2 separate regions of the Homo sapiens genome follow, and region 2 is linked to region 1. Evidence: fine-mapped expression QTL. A gene starts in region 1. The other region holds a variant in brackets. All regions are shown on one strand. Distances are from middle to middle.

Region 1 (8,291 bases):
AAAGTCAATGTCCAAAAATCAAAAGCATTCCTATACACCAAGAACAGACAAACAGAGAGCCAAATCATGAGTGAATTCTCATTCACAATTACTACAAAGAGAATAAAATACCTAGGAATACAACTTACAAGGGATGTGAAGGACCTCTTCAAGGACAACTACAAACCACTGCTCAGCGAAATAAAAGAGGACGCAAACAAATGGAAGAACCTTCTATGCTCATGGATAGGAAGACTCAATATCGTGAAAATGGCCATACAGCCTAAGGTAATTTATAGATTCAATGCTATCCCCATCAAGCTACCACTGACTTTCCTCACAGAATTGGAAAAAACTACTTTAAAGTTCATATGGAACCAAAAAAGAGCCCACATAGCCAAGACAATCCTAAGCAAAAAGAACAAAGCTGGAGGCATCAGGCTACCAGACTTCAAACTATACTACAAGGCTACAGTAATCAAAACAGCATGGCATTGGTACCAAAACAGAGAGATAGACCAATAGAACAGAACAGAGGCCTCAGAAACAACACCACACATCTACAACCATCTGATCTTTGACAAACCTGACAAAAACAAGAAATGGGGAAAGGATTCCCTATTTAATAAATGGTGCTGGGAAAACTGGCTAGCCATATATAGAAAATTGAAACTGGATTCCTTCCTTACACCTTACACAAAGATTAACTCAAGATGGATTAAAGACTTAAATGTAAGACCTAAAACCATAAAAACCCTAAAAGAATACCTAGACAATGCAATTCAGGACACAGGCACGGGCAAAGACTTCATAACTAAAACACCAAAAGCAATGGCAACAAAGGCCAAAATAGACACATGGGATCTAATTAAACTAAAGAGCTTCTGCACAGCAAAATAAACTATCATCAGAGTGAACAGGCAACCTACAGAATGGGTGAAAATTTTTGCAATCTATCCATCTGACAAAGGGCTAATATCCAGAATCTACAAAGAACTTAAACAAAAGTACAAGAAAAAACAACCCCATCAAAAAGTGGGCAAAATATATGGATAGACGCTTCTCAAAAGAAGACATTTATGCAGCCAGCAGACATATGAAAAAATGCTCATCATCACTGGTTATCAGAGAAATGCAAATCAAAACCACAATGAGATACCATCTCACGCCAGTTAGAATGGCAATCATTAAAAAGTCAGGAAACAACAGATGCTGGAGAAGATGTGGAGAAATAGGAATGCTTTCACACTGTTCTTGGGAGTGTAAATGATTTCAACCATTGTGGAAGACAGTGTGGCGATTCCTCAAGGATCTAGAACTAGAAATACCATTTGACCCAGCAATCCCATTACTGGGTATATACCCAAAGGATTATAAATCATGCTACTATAAAGATACATGCACAGGCATGTTTACTGAGGCACTATTCACAATAGCAAAGACTTAGAACCAACCCAAATGTCCATCAATAATAGACTGGATAAAGAAAATGTGCCATATATACACCATGGAATACTATGCAGCCATAAAAAAGGATGAGTTCATGTCCTTTGCAGGGACATGGATGAAGCTGGAAACCATCATTCTCAGCAAAATATCACAAGGACAGAAGACCAAACACCACATGTTCTCACTCATAAGTGGGAGTTGAACACTGAGAACACATGGACACATGGAGGGGAACATCGCACACAAGGGCCTGTTGCAGGGTGGGGGGCTGGTGGAGGGATAGCTTTAGGAGAAATACCTAATGTAAATGACAAGTTGATGTGTGCAGCCAACCAACATTGCACATGTATACCTATGTAAGAAACTTGCACATTGTGCACACGTACCCTAGAACTTAAAGTATAATAAAAAAAAATTGTTTTGACGATAACAATACCTACTTCATGGTTATTGTGAAGATTAGATGAGTAAAAGAAAAAAGGACCTAGAAGAATGCTGGCACATAGAAAGCACTCAAGGATTGCTGGTCACTGTTATTAGCTATTGAATATTTGAGGGAACAGAAAAAATTTCTCAATAAAGTTTGACATGGAAATTTAGATAATATGCTAGTCCAGCTCTCTGGCATATAACATAATTCTAAGAAGGATCTCTCTTTTTAGTAGCCACTCAATACTTCTTGGACATTACTCAGTGATAATTACTATATTCTCTCTCAGAGTATAACAGCTCCTTTCCTGTATGTGAAAACCCCACTGAAGAAAAGTCTCACTTTAGGGTTTTCAAACTTTGAAAGCTGGTTGCAGCTTTAAACTTACAGTTCTTATACAAGTGCAGCATTAAGAGAGTTGCTGTGCACCTGTTAGTTTCTAGCCAATGAAGTTATATCATTCTCAGAGATGTTATTTCTTTTCTTCTTTTCATTTTTCTGAGACGGAGTTTTGCTCTTTTGCCCAGGCTGGAGTGAAGTGGCGCGATCTTGGCTCATTACAACCTCCGCCCCCTGGGTTCAAACAATTCTCCTGCCTCAGCCTCCCTAGTAGCTGTGATTATAGGCACCCACCACCATGCCCAGCTAATTTTTGTATGTTTAATAGAGACAGGGTTTCGCCATGTTGGCCAGGCTTGCCTCAAACTCCTGACCTAAGGTGATCCACCCGCCTTGGCATCCCAAAGTACTAGGATTACAGGCGTGAGCCACCATGCCTGGCCATGGGATGTCATTTTTGAGTTTGGTTAATGTACAGGCAATTCTGCAATATCTATGTTTAAGACATTAAAAGCATGGTTTCTAATACTAGACTACTTAGGATTGAATCTTGGCTTCACTACTTCCTAGCTGTATGATCAAGGGCAAATTGCTTAATCTCTCTGTGCCTCAGTGTTCTCAGTTGTAAAACGGGGATAATAAACACGGTTACTGTGAGTACCAAATTAGTTAATACATAACGTAAAACACTTTAAACAGTGCCTGACATCTAATAAATGCTATCTAAATATTATAATAGAAATTTATGGTTAAAATAGAAGAATTAACTAAGTTGAAGGACTGTACAATAAGCCATCAATATGTTTCTCAATCCCAGACAGACCCCAGAATGAATTTTTGCAATCTACCTGTCAGTATATATGCACATGTATCTTATTGGAAAACTCAGCAAAATCATAAGATTTAGGTCCTGGCCCTCAACTATTTTCCTTAACAAAATCTACTTTAGGGAGATGCTGTGAAGGTAAAAATTAGCATGTCCCAGGGAAAGCTCATTGCACACTACAAAGGACTATGACAATAACAGGCTTTAGATTTATTTTCTACATTGGCTCTAGCATTTTAGAAGGGTACTTTTACTACTCAAGCCACTTTCCTGCAACTCTCCCCCGAATTTCCCTCCTTCACAGTGGCCAACCTCAAAGCGTTTTCAATGTAAGTGCCTTTCCTGTTAGTGAGACTTCCCTATGAAAATAAATAGTTTAAAGGTTGTTGGAGCCTAAAACTCACTAAGCCTGGAGAGAGATGTGACTGTCATCTGAGTTACACGTGGTTACAACTTCTGTTTCTCAGATTATAGATTAACTTGCTTTCTTATTTTTCTTGTTCTATACAATGGCTAGAGAGAATTAAACGAAGTTAAGGACAAAAACTTCCTGCCTTCTTAATGATCCTTATAGATTAACTTCTGCTTTGTTGCCCCGGTTTGCTTAGACCAGATGACAGAAAATCCTTTATGAAAAATGTTAAATGTACACTTCCCAAAAAGAAACACTGTCTATAATCAAATTGTTGTAACTATTCTCTAACCTTGTATGAGAAAATGCTGTAATCCTGCTAAAAAACCTCTCAGTTTCTGCCTATATAAGTGAAATCTTAAATCTCTACTTCGGAACGCTGACTCCTTCCTTGGAGTCGGTGTTTCTAGGTAGGCTATCCTCAAACTTCGCGCTTTTGATTATTTTACATTGACACCTCCTGTCATCCGCAAGCTCAAAGGCAAGGCTAATAAAAGATGGCAGAGAGCCAATTAGGGACAGAGCCATGTAATCCTCATACCCAGGTGAGTTTAGGGCAGTCTTGCAGAAGCAGAAGCAAATTGTGGGGTCACGAAACCCTCCGGACCCGCCCGCCTCCACCACCACGCGCCCCTATGACCTTCGACCCCTCCCTAGCCCCAGAGCACGCCGGGAGTTGTAGTTCCCAAAGGCCTGTTCGGGCCAGCGCAGGCGCTTGGGGTTTCCCTCCCACCCAACCCCCGCACTTTACCGGATAAGGAAGCGGCCCGTGCTGCCACGCAGTCGCCGGAACGCGGGCGGGGGCTTCTGGGAGTTGTAGTCTGTTGGGGGCGTGCGCAGTCGGTAAGGAGACGTAGCTTTCCGTGGGGTGTACCACTGCAGTTGGTTCCCGGCGGGAGACGCAGGGTCAGTCTGTGACTCTTCCCCTACCACGCTCCCGCAGAGGCTGAGGAGGCGGTTTCGACTTCTCCTCCGGCTTTCTGTCTTCGGCACTGTGTGCTTCTTGCTCCGCGGTTTATTTCTGTACCTAGTCCTCCCTCCCCTCTTCGGTCCATCTCCAAAGCCCGGGCTTGGCGGGGACTCGCCCTCCGGTAAAGGCAGGGCCGCGACCTCCTAAAACCCGGTCGCCGCCCTGCAGGAACCTTCCTCACTCGGCCCCTCACACCGGGTTTCCGCACTGACCCTCCTTCGCCTCGGTCCTCGCTGCGCTCACCTCCTTCCACTCTTTTTTTTTTTTTTCTCCTTTGCAGGGATGGAAGCTTCCTGGCGCCAGGTGGCCGGTGGCCGAGGCCGATCCCGGGGACGGGCCACTGCCGCCCCCTCAGGAAATGGAGTCCATCTCCGCGGCGCCGGAGGAGGGCGAGAGAAGGGGTCGGTGGGCGCAGTTCCTTCTGGCACCAGTCCCGGAGGAGTCGCGACCACGGCGGCTGCAGGGAGCAGGCACAGCCCCGCAGGATCCCAAGCCCTGCAGACTACCGCAGCCAGCGGTGAGAATGGCTCCCGCCCGCGTGCTCACCTGGATGCCTCCTAAGGCAGTTACTAGTCAGGACCGCCTCCGCCCTCGCCTTCTTTCTTTCACTGCTTTTCCCCTCGTTCGGGAGTTTGTTATCGGGCCCACTTCTCCAGCCTTTCGGGTGGCTGCTCTTTTCGGCACTCTAGGTAGATTTCCATCGCACCTCTTTCATCTTAATTTTAGGTGGTATTACCTTTGTTACTTCCCTCCACTCTTGCCTACTTGAATCTCCAGACCATCAGTTGTAAATTGTGGCCCGGTGTTCTGATTTGGTCTATAATGTTGTTTGGTTAACACAGAGTTTTAAATGTGGATTGATTGTCAGCGGTTGTTTGTCGTTTTTAAAAATCTGGTTAACAACCTTGTGGCTTTAGTTATCTTTGTGCATGGCAACAGTCAGCTCGGCTGAGTCACAGAAATCCCATTTAGATTGGACTTGGGCATTCCATCTCACATTCTCTCTCATTTCTGGAGCCAGGTGTCATTTGTCATCTTTACCTTTGCCTTTGTTTCTTGACTTGTCTTATTCCTTGTAAGCACTTGAGCTTTTGATACCTTCCTTGACTGTAGTTCCTATTTACAAATTCCATGTCCTTCTGTGGACATATCTGGTGTTGCCTCCGATATATCAATACTTTTCATCCAAGACCATGTTTTCGTGGAGCCAGGGAGGACTTACACACAATTGTGCATGGGGCCGAGGGAATAATCCCTGAAATCATTTTATTTTTGTGTTTGGAATGCATTTCAGGATACATTTTTTTGGGGGGTGTGGAGCAGAATTGAGTATCTTGAATGATTTTTCTCCTAGGCTAATTTGAAAGGTAGGTGGTATTCTCTTAGCATGCAGTTAATGGCCGTGATGATAAGGTATACAATATGGAGACGTGTGAACAGGTTTGGTAAACTTTTTTTTTTTTTTTTTTTTTTTGAGACAGAGTCTCGCTGGTCGCCCAGGCTGGAGTGCAGTGGCGCAATCTCGGCTCACTGCAAGCTCTGCCTCCTGGGTTCAGGCCGTTCTCCGGCCTCAGCCTCCCGAGTAGCTGGGACTACAGGCGCCTGCCACCACGCCTGGCTAATGTTTTGTTTTTTGTTCTTTGGTTTTTTTTTTTTAGTAGAGACGGGGTTTCACCGTGTTAGCCAGGATGGTCTCCATCTCGTGGGTAGAAGGAAAACAAGCATTCTGTCCGGGCGCGGTGGCTCAAGCCTGTAATCCCAGCACTTTGGGAGGCCGAGGCGGGCAGATCATGAGGTCAGGAGATGGAGACCATCCTGGCTAACAGGGTGAAACCCCGTCTCTACTAAAAATACAAAAAATTAGCCGGGCGGGGTGGCAGGCGCCTGTAGTCCCAGCTACTCGGGAGGCTGAGGAAGGAGAATGGCGTGAGCCCGGGAGGCGGAGCTTGCAGTAGCCGAGATTGCCCCACTGCACTCCAGCCTGGGCGACAGAGCAAGACTCCGTCTCAAAAAAAAAAAAAAAAGAAAGAAAAGAAAAAGAAAACAAGCATTCTCTACCTGGACAGTTGAGATTTGGCTGTAAGAAATAATACGTGAGAAGGTTGTCTTGTCAGCTTCTCTTTACTTTGAGATGATGTTAGGTGAATACATTTATCAGGTTATGAATGTTCTCATTATCTCTGTCCAGTTCAGCCTGTTTTCTTATGTATCTTTTAAGTGCTAATTTCCCGTATATTAATGACATTTATCATCTCTTTTGTGACAAGTTTTGAGTTATATATCTCATAGCCAGTTCTTTTTTCCCAGTACTCAAAGCTTGCTAGGTAAGCATGATACACATTTTCGTCGAGGTTTACTTGAAATACTCAATTTGTTTTGTTAATAACCCCTAACCAAACTGGCTGCAATAAGAAAAGGAAAATGTTTCATGAGGGAACATAATCAAGTACGAATATACCACCCAAGATAAGAGAGCTTATCTTGGTAGTGGCTTATCAGTTTTAAGTATAATGTTAATTTTAAAATAGTCAATCAGTAAATTTAAAATCCTCTCAAGATGGGAATTCATGAACTCAGATCAGTTCTGCAGGTTTGTGGCTCCTTTCTTAAACTATGTTTGCTGTCCGTAAGAGCTTATTAACACTTAGTGCTTGAAGAAAATCCCTGTGGTCCTTGCTCTCAAGAAGTTTGAAGTTTCTTTGGGAGTATGTGCAGTGAAGTAATCTGGTTTTGTTTTGCATGATTAATCAAGTAACAAAATGAGAAGTACAGGTAGTGCTGAATAGTGGAAGAACGAATCCAAAATTAACATTCTTTTTGGAATGAAGTTGGAAGAAACATGTTTTCCATGTTAATACTTTGTGTGGATTAATGTAAAATATGTTTTTTTGTGTGACCACAAGAAGTCCATAATAAAGGCAAAAAGTTCTTGACCTAAGAAGCCGATTGTAAATATAGTGGGTGCATAGTGAGTACTGTTGGTACAAACTCTTTGGTAGGGCTGGACTGGACTGGGCTGGGCCGTCGTGTCCTATCCTACCTGTTGTTCAGAAGACGGTAGTTTGAAATACCTACCTTCCCTGATTCTTTATGTGCTCACTGTGGACATGTTCCCTCACTTCTTAAAAATTACTGTGCACAATGTACTTTAAAACATCTTAATTTTTGTTAGTCCTTATTTTGAAGTTGATCACCAGTATTTTGATAGTTTTATTGTATTTTCATATTTTTTTTCTTGATTTGTTAATCACCGTTATCATAAAAATTTGCTGCATTTTAGCAGGATACTTAGAAAAGTGAAAGTTTTTGTTGTGGTATTCTCTTTAGTTGTGTGTCAAGGAATTTGAAAATACTTTTCTCGTGGATTACAGGAAGGTAGAATGCTCCAAAGGTGACTTTCAAATGTGTGTTGTAAAATGATATATTAGCACATTATGCTTTTCTTTTTGAGAGATTGTTTTGCAGAAATGAAACTTTTTTCTTTTAAACAGAGCTAATGTCTCAGAAAAAATTTGAAGAAATCAAGAAAGCTAACCAAGCTGCAGCCAGAAAACTTGTTGAAGAACAGTTTAGCTCTTCATCTGAAGAAGGAGATGAAGATTTTGAAGGAAAACAGGGAAAAATACTTGCAAATACGTTTATAACATACACTACTCAGACAGGTACTGATCTTTTAAATTTTGACTTTTGACGTCAATGAAACTGTATTCCTGACATTTTTTTGGTAATGCCTTTGTTCTATATGGAATAGATTTTATATCTTAAGATGAGCACTGTATGTTATAGAGTTGAATTTTTGTACACTTTGGTATTTGAGTTATATATTGTGTAACACTAATTTTTCTATAAAGCAAATAGAATGGCAGTGGCTCTTTTATAGCCTTAG
Region 2 (8,291 bases), 78 kb before region 1:
CTTGGCTCACTGCAACCTCCACCTCCTGGGTTCAAGTGATTCTCCTGCCTCAGCCTCCTGAGTAGCTGGGGGACTACAGATGTGTGCCAAGCCCAGCTAATTTTTTAAATTTTCGTAGGGATGCAGGTTTCACCATGTTGGCCAGGCTGATCTCAAACTCCTGACCTCAGGTGATCCACTCACCTCGGCCTCCCAAAGTGCTAGGATTACAGGCATGAGTCACTGTGCCCAGCCCCTAAAAGACTTAAAATCTTAAAATTTTCAGGTACAACCATACTCTCTTCCCCAATAATTTTTTTTCCTTACTCTGGATTTCTTTGAGCCCTTTGTATTTGATTATGTTATTTAACCAGAAACTTAATACAATTACAATGAATTATTTAATAATAAGCTCCAGGAACTATCTCACAGGAAAATAATAATAATCTTAATATTTACTGTAATTAAGGACTCAATTTGTGCCAGGCCTGGTGTGAAGAGTTTTATGTCAATCATTTCTATTTACCATACCTTGATTAGAAGAATCTATTCCCATTATGCTAATAAAAAATGGCAACAACAAGGTTCAGGGCAGTTAAATAATTTTCCCAAGGCTACAGTGCTGTCAGAAATTAGCAAACCAGGATGCAAATCTAAATTAGCAAACCAGGATGCAAAATCTAAACCAGGATGCAAATCTCAAGTCCACTAAATTTCCAATATTCCAAGGAGCTATCAACATCAGTTGCAAGTCTCTGAGGCCACCCCAATCATGCTGAGGGCTGGAGGACTTACTCCCTAAGAGGAGGGATCATGGTGGATGGGAGGCAGGACTAGATTGCAGCTCTGACTCAGATAGACAGAGCAGTGTGTGGAGGCTCGTGTCATGAATTTTTGCACCAGAATGACTGTAGGAATAAATCAGGAAACCTGGGAGTACCCAGAGACCTCTCTGAAGGAAGTGGATTGCTCCTTCAGGACCCAGGAAACACTCCAAATACTGTACTGGTATCCCCAGATGAGAGACCCACAGATGGTTTATGTAACAGGACTCTGTGCAGACAACCCCTAGTACCAGCCCAGAGCCTGGTAGACTTGCTGGGTGGCTAGATCCAGAAGAGAGATAATAATCACTACAGCTTGGCTCTCAGGAAGCTACATCCATAGGAAAAGGGTGAGAGTACTACATCAAGGGAACACCCTGTGGGGCAAAAGAATCTGAACAACAGCCTTCAGCCCTAGACCTTTCCTTTGATAGAGCCAACCCAAATGAGAAGGAACCAGAAAACCAACTCTGGTAATATAAAAAAACAATGTTCTTTAACACCCCCCAAAAATCACACTAGCTCACCAGCAATGGATCCAAGCTGAGAAGAACCCCTGATTTACCTGAAAATGAATTCAGGGGGTTAGTTATTAAGCTAATCAGGGAGACACCACAGAAAGATGAAGCCCAATTTAAGGAAATAAAAAAAAATGATACAAGAAGTGAAGGGAGAAATAATGAAATAGATAGCAAGAATAAAAAGCAATCAAAACTTCAGGAAACAATGGACACACTTAGAGCAATGCAAAATGCTCTGGAAAATCTCAGCAACATAATTAAACAAGTAGAAGAAAGAAATTTAGAGCTTGAAGACAGGGTCTTTGCATTAATCCAATCCAACAAAGACAAAAAAGAATAAGAAAATATGAACAAAGCCTCCAACAAGTCTGGCATTATGTTAACCAACCAAATCTAAGAATTCTAAAAGTTTGGAAAACATATTTGGGAGAAGAATCTAGGAAAATTTCCATGGCCTTGCTAGAGACCTAGACATCCAAATACAAGAAGCACAAAGAACACCTAGGAAATTCATCACAAAAAGATCATCACCTAGGCACATTGTCATCAGGTTATCTAAAATTAAGACAAAGGAAAGAATCTTAAGAGCTGTGAGACAAAAGCACCAGGTAGCCTATAAAGGAAAGCCTATCAGATTAATAGCAGATTTCTCAGCAGAAACTGTACAAGCTAGAAGGGATTCTATCTATCTTCAGCCTCCTCAAACAAAACAATTATCAGCCAACAATTGTGTATCCAGTGAAGCCAAGCTTCATATATGAAGGAAAGATACAGTCTTTTTCAGATAAACAAAAGCTGAAAGAATTCACCACTACCAAGTCACCACTACAAGAACTGCTAAAAAGAGCTCTAAATATTGAAACAAATCCTGGGAACACATCAAACAGAACCTCTTTAAAGCATATATCTCACAGAACCTATAAAACAAAAATACAATTTAAAAAACAAAAAACCAAAGTATATGGGCAACAAGTAGTACAATGAATGGAATGGCACCTCACATCTCAATACTAACATTGAATGTAAATGGCCAAAATGCTCCACTTAAAAGATAAAGAATTACAGAATGGATAAGAATTCACCAACCAACTGTCTGTTGCCTTCAGGAGACTCACCTAACACATAAGGACTCACATAAACTTAAGATAAAGGGGTGGAAAAAGACGTTTCATGCAAAATGACACCAAAAGCAGGCAGGATTCTTACATCAGATAAAACAAACTTTAAAGCAACAGCAGTTAAAAAGACAAAGAGGAACATTATATAATGATAAAAGGCCTTGTCCAACAGGAAACTATCACAATCCTAAACATATATGCGCCTAACACTGGAGCTCCCAAATTTATAAAGCAATTACTAATAGACTTAAGAAATGAGATAGACAGCAACACCATAGTAGTGGGAGACTTCAGTACTCCACTGACAGCACTAGACAGGTCATCAAGACAGAAAGTCAACAAAGAAACAATGGATTTAAACTATACCCTGGCACAAATGGACTTAACAGATATATACAGAACATTCCTTCCAACAACTGCAGAATATACATTCTATTTGACAGTGCATGGAACTTTCTCCAAGATAGACAATATGATAGGCCACAAAATGAGCCTCAATAAATTTAAGAAAATTGAAATTATATCAGGCACTCTCAGACCACAGTGAAACAAAACCGGAAATCAACTCCAAAAGAAACCTTCAAAACCATGCAAATCATGGAAATTAAATAACCTGCTCCTGAATGATCACTGGGTCAAAAGTGAAATCAAGATGGAAATTTGAAAATTCTTTGAACTGAACGACAATAGTGACACAATCTATCAAAACATCTGGGATACAGCAAAGGTGGTGCTAACAGGAAATTCAAAGCCCCAAACACATCAGAAAGTCTGAAAGAGCACAAACAGACAATCTAAGGTCACACCTCAAGGAACTAGAGAAACAAGAAAAAAACCAAACCCAAAACCAGCAGAAGTAAGGAAATAAGCAAGATCAGAGCATAAATAAATGAAATTGAACCCCCAATACAAAAGATAAATGAAACAAAAAACTGATTCTTTGAAAAAATAAATAAAATTGATAGACCATGAGCAAGATTAACCAAGAAAAGAAGAGAGAAAATCCAAAAAAGCTCAATAAGAAATGAAATGAGAGATATTACAACTGACATCACAGAAATACAAAAGATTATTCGAGGCTACTATGAACGCCTTTACACACATAAACCAGGATACCTAGAAGAGATGGATAAATTCCTGGAAAGACAGAACCCTGCTAGCTTAAATCAGGAAGAATTAGATAACCTGAACAGACCAATAACAAGCAGTGAGATTGAAATGGTAACTTAAAAATTACCAACAACAAAAAAGTCCAGAACCAGACAGATTCACAGAAGATTCCTACCAAACATTCAAAGAATTGGTACCAATTCTACTGACACTATTCCACAAGATAGAGAATGAGGGAACCCTCCCTAAATCATTCTATGTAGCCAGCATCAACCTAATACCAAAACCAGGAAAGGATATAACCAAAAAAGAAAACTACAGACCAATATCCCTGATGAACGTAGATGCTAAAATTAACAAAATACTAGCTAACCGAATCCAACAACATATGAAAAAGATAATCCACCCTGATCAAGTTGGTTTCATACCAGGGATGTAGGGATGGTTTAACATATGCAAGTCAATAAATGTGATACACCACATAAAGAGAATTAAGAACAAAAATCACATGATCATCTTAATAGATGCAGAAAAAGCATTCAACAAAATCCAACATCCTTTTATGATTAAAACTCTCAGCAAAATCAGCATACAAGGGAAATACCTCAATGTAATAAAAGCCATCTATGACAAACCCACAGCCAACATAATACTGAATGGGGAAAAGTTGAAAGTATTCCCTCTGAGAACTGGAACAAGACAAGGATGCCCACTCTCACCACTCCTCTTCAACATAGCACTGGAACTCCTAGCCAGAGCAATCAGACTAAATAAATAAATAAATAAATAAATAAATAAATAATAAATGGCATCCAAATCAGTAAAGATGAAGTCAAACTGTCACTGTTTGCTGATGGTATGATTGTTTACCTAGAAAATCCTAAAGACTCCTCCAGAAAACTCATAGAACTGATAAAAGAATTCAGCAAAATTGCCGGATACAAAATTAATGTACACAAATCAGTAGCTCTGCTATGCACCAACAGCAACCAAGCTGAGAATCAAATCAAGAACTCAA[A/C]CTTTTTTTTACAATAGCTGCAAAAAAACCAAAATACTTAGGAATATACCTAACCAAAGAGTTGAAAGAACTCTACAAGGAAAACTACAAAACACTGTTGAAAGAAATCATAGATGACACAAACAAATGGAAACACATCCCATGCTCATGGATGGGTAGAATCAATATTGTGAAAATGACCACACTATCAAAAGCAAGCTACAAATTTAATGCAATTCCCATCAAAATACCACCATCATTCTTCATAGAACTATAAAAAAATTCTAAAATTCATATGGAACCAAAAAAGAGCCCTTATAGCCAAAGCAAGACTAAGCAAAAAGAGCAAGTCTAGAGGCATCACATTACCTGATTTCAAACTATACTATAAGGCCATAGTCACCAAAACAGCATGATACTGGCATAAAAATAGGCACATAGACCAATGGAACAGAATAGAAAACCCAGAAATAAGCCTAAATACTTGCAGCCAACTGATCTTCAACAAAGCAAACAAAAACATAAAGTGGGGAAAGGGCATCCTTTTCAACAAATGGTGCTTGGATAATTGGCTAGCCACATGTAGGAGAATAAAAGTTCATCCTCATCTCCCACCTTATATAAAAATCAACTCAAGATGGATTAAAGACTTAAACCTAAGACCTGAAACTATACAAATTCTAGAAGATAACATTGAAAAAATCCTTCTAGACATTGGCTTAGGCAGAGTTTTCATGACCAAGAACTTAAAAGCAAATGCAATAAAAACAAAGATAAATAGTTGGGACTTAATTAAACTAAAGTGCTTTTACCTGGCAAAAGGAACAGTCAGCAGAGTAAACAGACAACCCACAGAGTGGGAGGAAATCTTCACAATCTATACATCTGACAAAGGACTAATATCCAGAATCTACAATGAAGTCAAACAAATCAGCAAGAAAAAAACAAACAATTCCATCAAAAAGTGGGCTAAGAACATGAATAGACAATTCTCAAAAGAAGATATACAAATGGCAAACAAACATATGAAAAAATGCTCAACATCACGAATGATCAGGGAAATGCAAATCAAAACCACAATGCGAAATGCAATACCATCTTACTCCTGCAAGAATGGCCATAATCAAAATATCAGAAAATAGTAGATGTTTGCATGGATGCGGTGAAGAGGGAACATTTCTACACTGCTGGTGGGAATGTAAATTAGTGCAATCACTATGGAAGACAGTGTGGAGATTCCTTAAAGAAATAAAAGTAGAACTGCCATTTGATCCAGCAATCCCAGTACTCGGTATCTACCCAGGGGAAAAGAAGTTGTTATACAAAAAGGATACTTGCACACTCATGCTTATAGCAGCACAATTTGCAATTGCAAAAAACATAGAATCAGTCCAAATGCCCATGAATCAATGAGTGGATAAAGAGATCATGGTGTATATACATGTATATATATATAATGGAATACTACTCAACCATAAAAAGGAATGAATTAATGACATTCATGGCTACCTAGATGAGATTAGTGACTATTATTCTAAGTGAAGTAACTCAGGAATGGGAAACCAAATATTGTATATTCTCGCTCGTAAGTGGGAGCTAAGCTATGAGGATGCAAAAGCATAAGAATGTTTTGGGGGAACCAGCCCCCATATTTCAACGTAGGTTCTTTCTATTTTCCCTAAGTGTTGGCTGGTCTGAGAAATAAAGAAAAAGAGTACAAAGAGAGAAATTTTACAGCTGGGCCTCCGGGAGTGCCATCACATATTAGTAGGACCATGATGGTGACGCCGAGCCGCAAAATCAGCAAGTTTTTATTAGGGATTTTAGAAAGGGAGGGGGTGTACAAACAGGGAGTAGGTCACAAGGATTACATGCTTCAACGGGCAATAAAGATCACAAGGCAAGGCAAAATTAGAAATACTGATGGAGGTCTATGTCCCACTGTGCATGCATTGTCTTGATAAACATCTTAACAGGAAACAGGGTTCGAAAGCAGAGAACTGGTCTGACTAGAATTTACCAGGCTGGAATTTTCCAATCCCAGTAAGCCTGAGGGTACTGCAAGAGACCAGGGCGTATTTCAGCCCTTATCTCAACCGCATAAGACAGACACTCCCAGAGTGGCCATCTATAGACCTCCCCCCAAGAATGCATTCCTTCCCCAGGTTTATTCCTTGCTGAGAAAAGAATTCAGTGATATTTCTCCTACTCGCTTTCTGCAGAAAGAAAAATATGGCTGTATTCTGCCTGACCCCACAGGCAGTCAGACCTTTATCCTCCCTCGTTCCCTGAAAATCACTGTTATTCTGTTCTTTTTCAGGGTGCACTGATTTCATATTGTTCAAACACCCATGTTTTACAATCAGTTTCATATTGTTCAAACACATATGTTTTACACACAATTTGTACCGTTAATGCAATCATCACAGGGTCCTGAGGCAACACACATCCTCAGCTTATGAAGATGATGGGATTAAGAGATTAAAGTAAGACAGGCATAAGAAATTATAAAAGTATTAATTCTGGGAACTAATAAATGTCCATGAAATCTTCACAATTTATGTTCTTCTGCTGCAGCTTCAGCTGGTCCCTCCGTTTGGGGTTCTTGACTTCCCGCAATAAGAATGACACAATGGACTTGGGGAATCAGGGGGAAAGGGTGGGAAGGGGGTGAGGGAGCAAAGACTACAAATAGGGTTCAGTGTATACTGCTTGGGCAATGGGTGCAATGAAATCTCACAAATCACCACAAAAGAACTTACTCATGTAACCAAACACCACCAGCTTCCCCAATAACCTACGGAAACAAAAAAAATTTTTTTTTAAATCAGGTGCTAAATTTTGATTATTTAACTTTTCTTAGATCTTTAAGACTGACCAAAATTTTATCAGTTTTCAAGGTCATTTAAATTCAGACACAATAATAAATAATTTACTTATTTTATAATGGTTAGTAATTTATGAGGGGGCTTGAAATTTCAGTTACCGTAGAATGATGGTACCCTGGTAAGTGTACAACTCCCAGAGGTAGAATTGTGTGTGATCAAAATTTTATTTTATTTACTTGTTCAGTGATTAAGGGATTCTGGACAGATTTCATATAAAATTAACTTTCAAGGGTCTGGTTTTACAGATTGGATGCTCATGTTCTGTAACTAATGAGTTTCCCTGTAAACAAATCTACCTGAGAAGTTAAATTATAACCAAAGATAGTTTGCTCATTAGCAGGAATCTAACCATAGATGGAGCACCTCATTTTTGGCAGTTTACACATTAGATTGATCATTTAATTAAGAAATCATGAAGGACGTAACTTGACCTAAGTAACACAGCTAAGCAAGTAGAAAATTTGAAATTTTAACCAAAGTTTGTCTAATGTCCCAAGGTGATACTCTTGACTAGGCAAATTGCTTTTCACAGTAGGGGATCTAATGAACACTCCCTTGCCCAGTGTCTAGCATGTAATATCCTTTTTTTTTTTAAAACTAAGAACAATAGCATTTTCTTAATCCTGTACATTCTATTTAAAGTTGACCCTTGAACAACTTGGGCTTGAACTACATGGGTCCGCTTATATGTGGATTTTTTTCAACCAAACCGATCACCACGTATACCTAGGGATGACTGTACTGTGGACTCAAATTGAGGTCTTTTAATGAGGAAGAGTTAATAGGTACTAAATAAATGTACACTGAATGAATGAATATATTGACTCACATTAGCTATTTTGAGGAGGCAATTT

The links.
Region 2: its variant is fine-mapped to the expression of NFXL1 in whole blood (INTERVAL, PIP 0.98).

What each region holds. Positions count from the first base shown.
Region 1 is chr4:47,910,600-47,918,890 of GRCh38, reverse strand. NFXL1 (nuclear transcription factor, X-box binding like 1) reads left to right here and starts at 4,308. Exons shown (of 23, transcript NM_001278624.2): 1 at 4,308-4,526; 2 at 4,686-4,922; 3 at 7,897-8,067. The coding sequence starts at 4,688. It overlaps LOC101927157 (a long non-coding RNA gene), which reads right to left and starts at 4,664. Exons shown (of 3, transcript NR_125879.1): 1 at 4,187-4,664. RefSeq lists enhancers at 4,328-4,557, 4,068-4,753, 4,754-5,440.
Region 2 is chr4:47,988,721-47,997,011 of GRCh38, reverse strand. All of the region lies in intron 2 of CNGA1 (cyclic nucleotide gated channel subunit alpha 1), which reads left to right. LOC101927157 (a long non-coding RNA gene) reads right to left here. Exons shown (of 3, transcript NR_125879.1): 3 at 6,275-7,346. Among named protein-coding and RNA genes, the nearest start is that of CNGA1, 24 kb to the left of the region's middle. The variant A/C (reference allele first, on the strand shown) is at 4,571.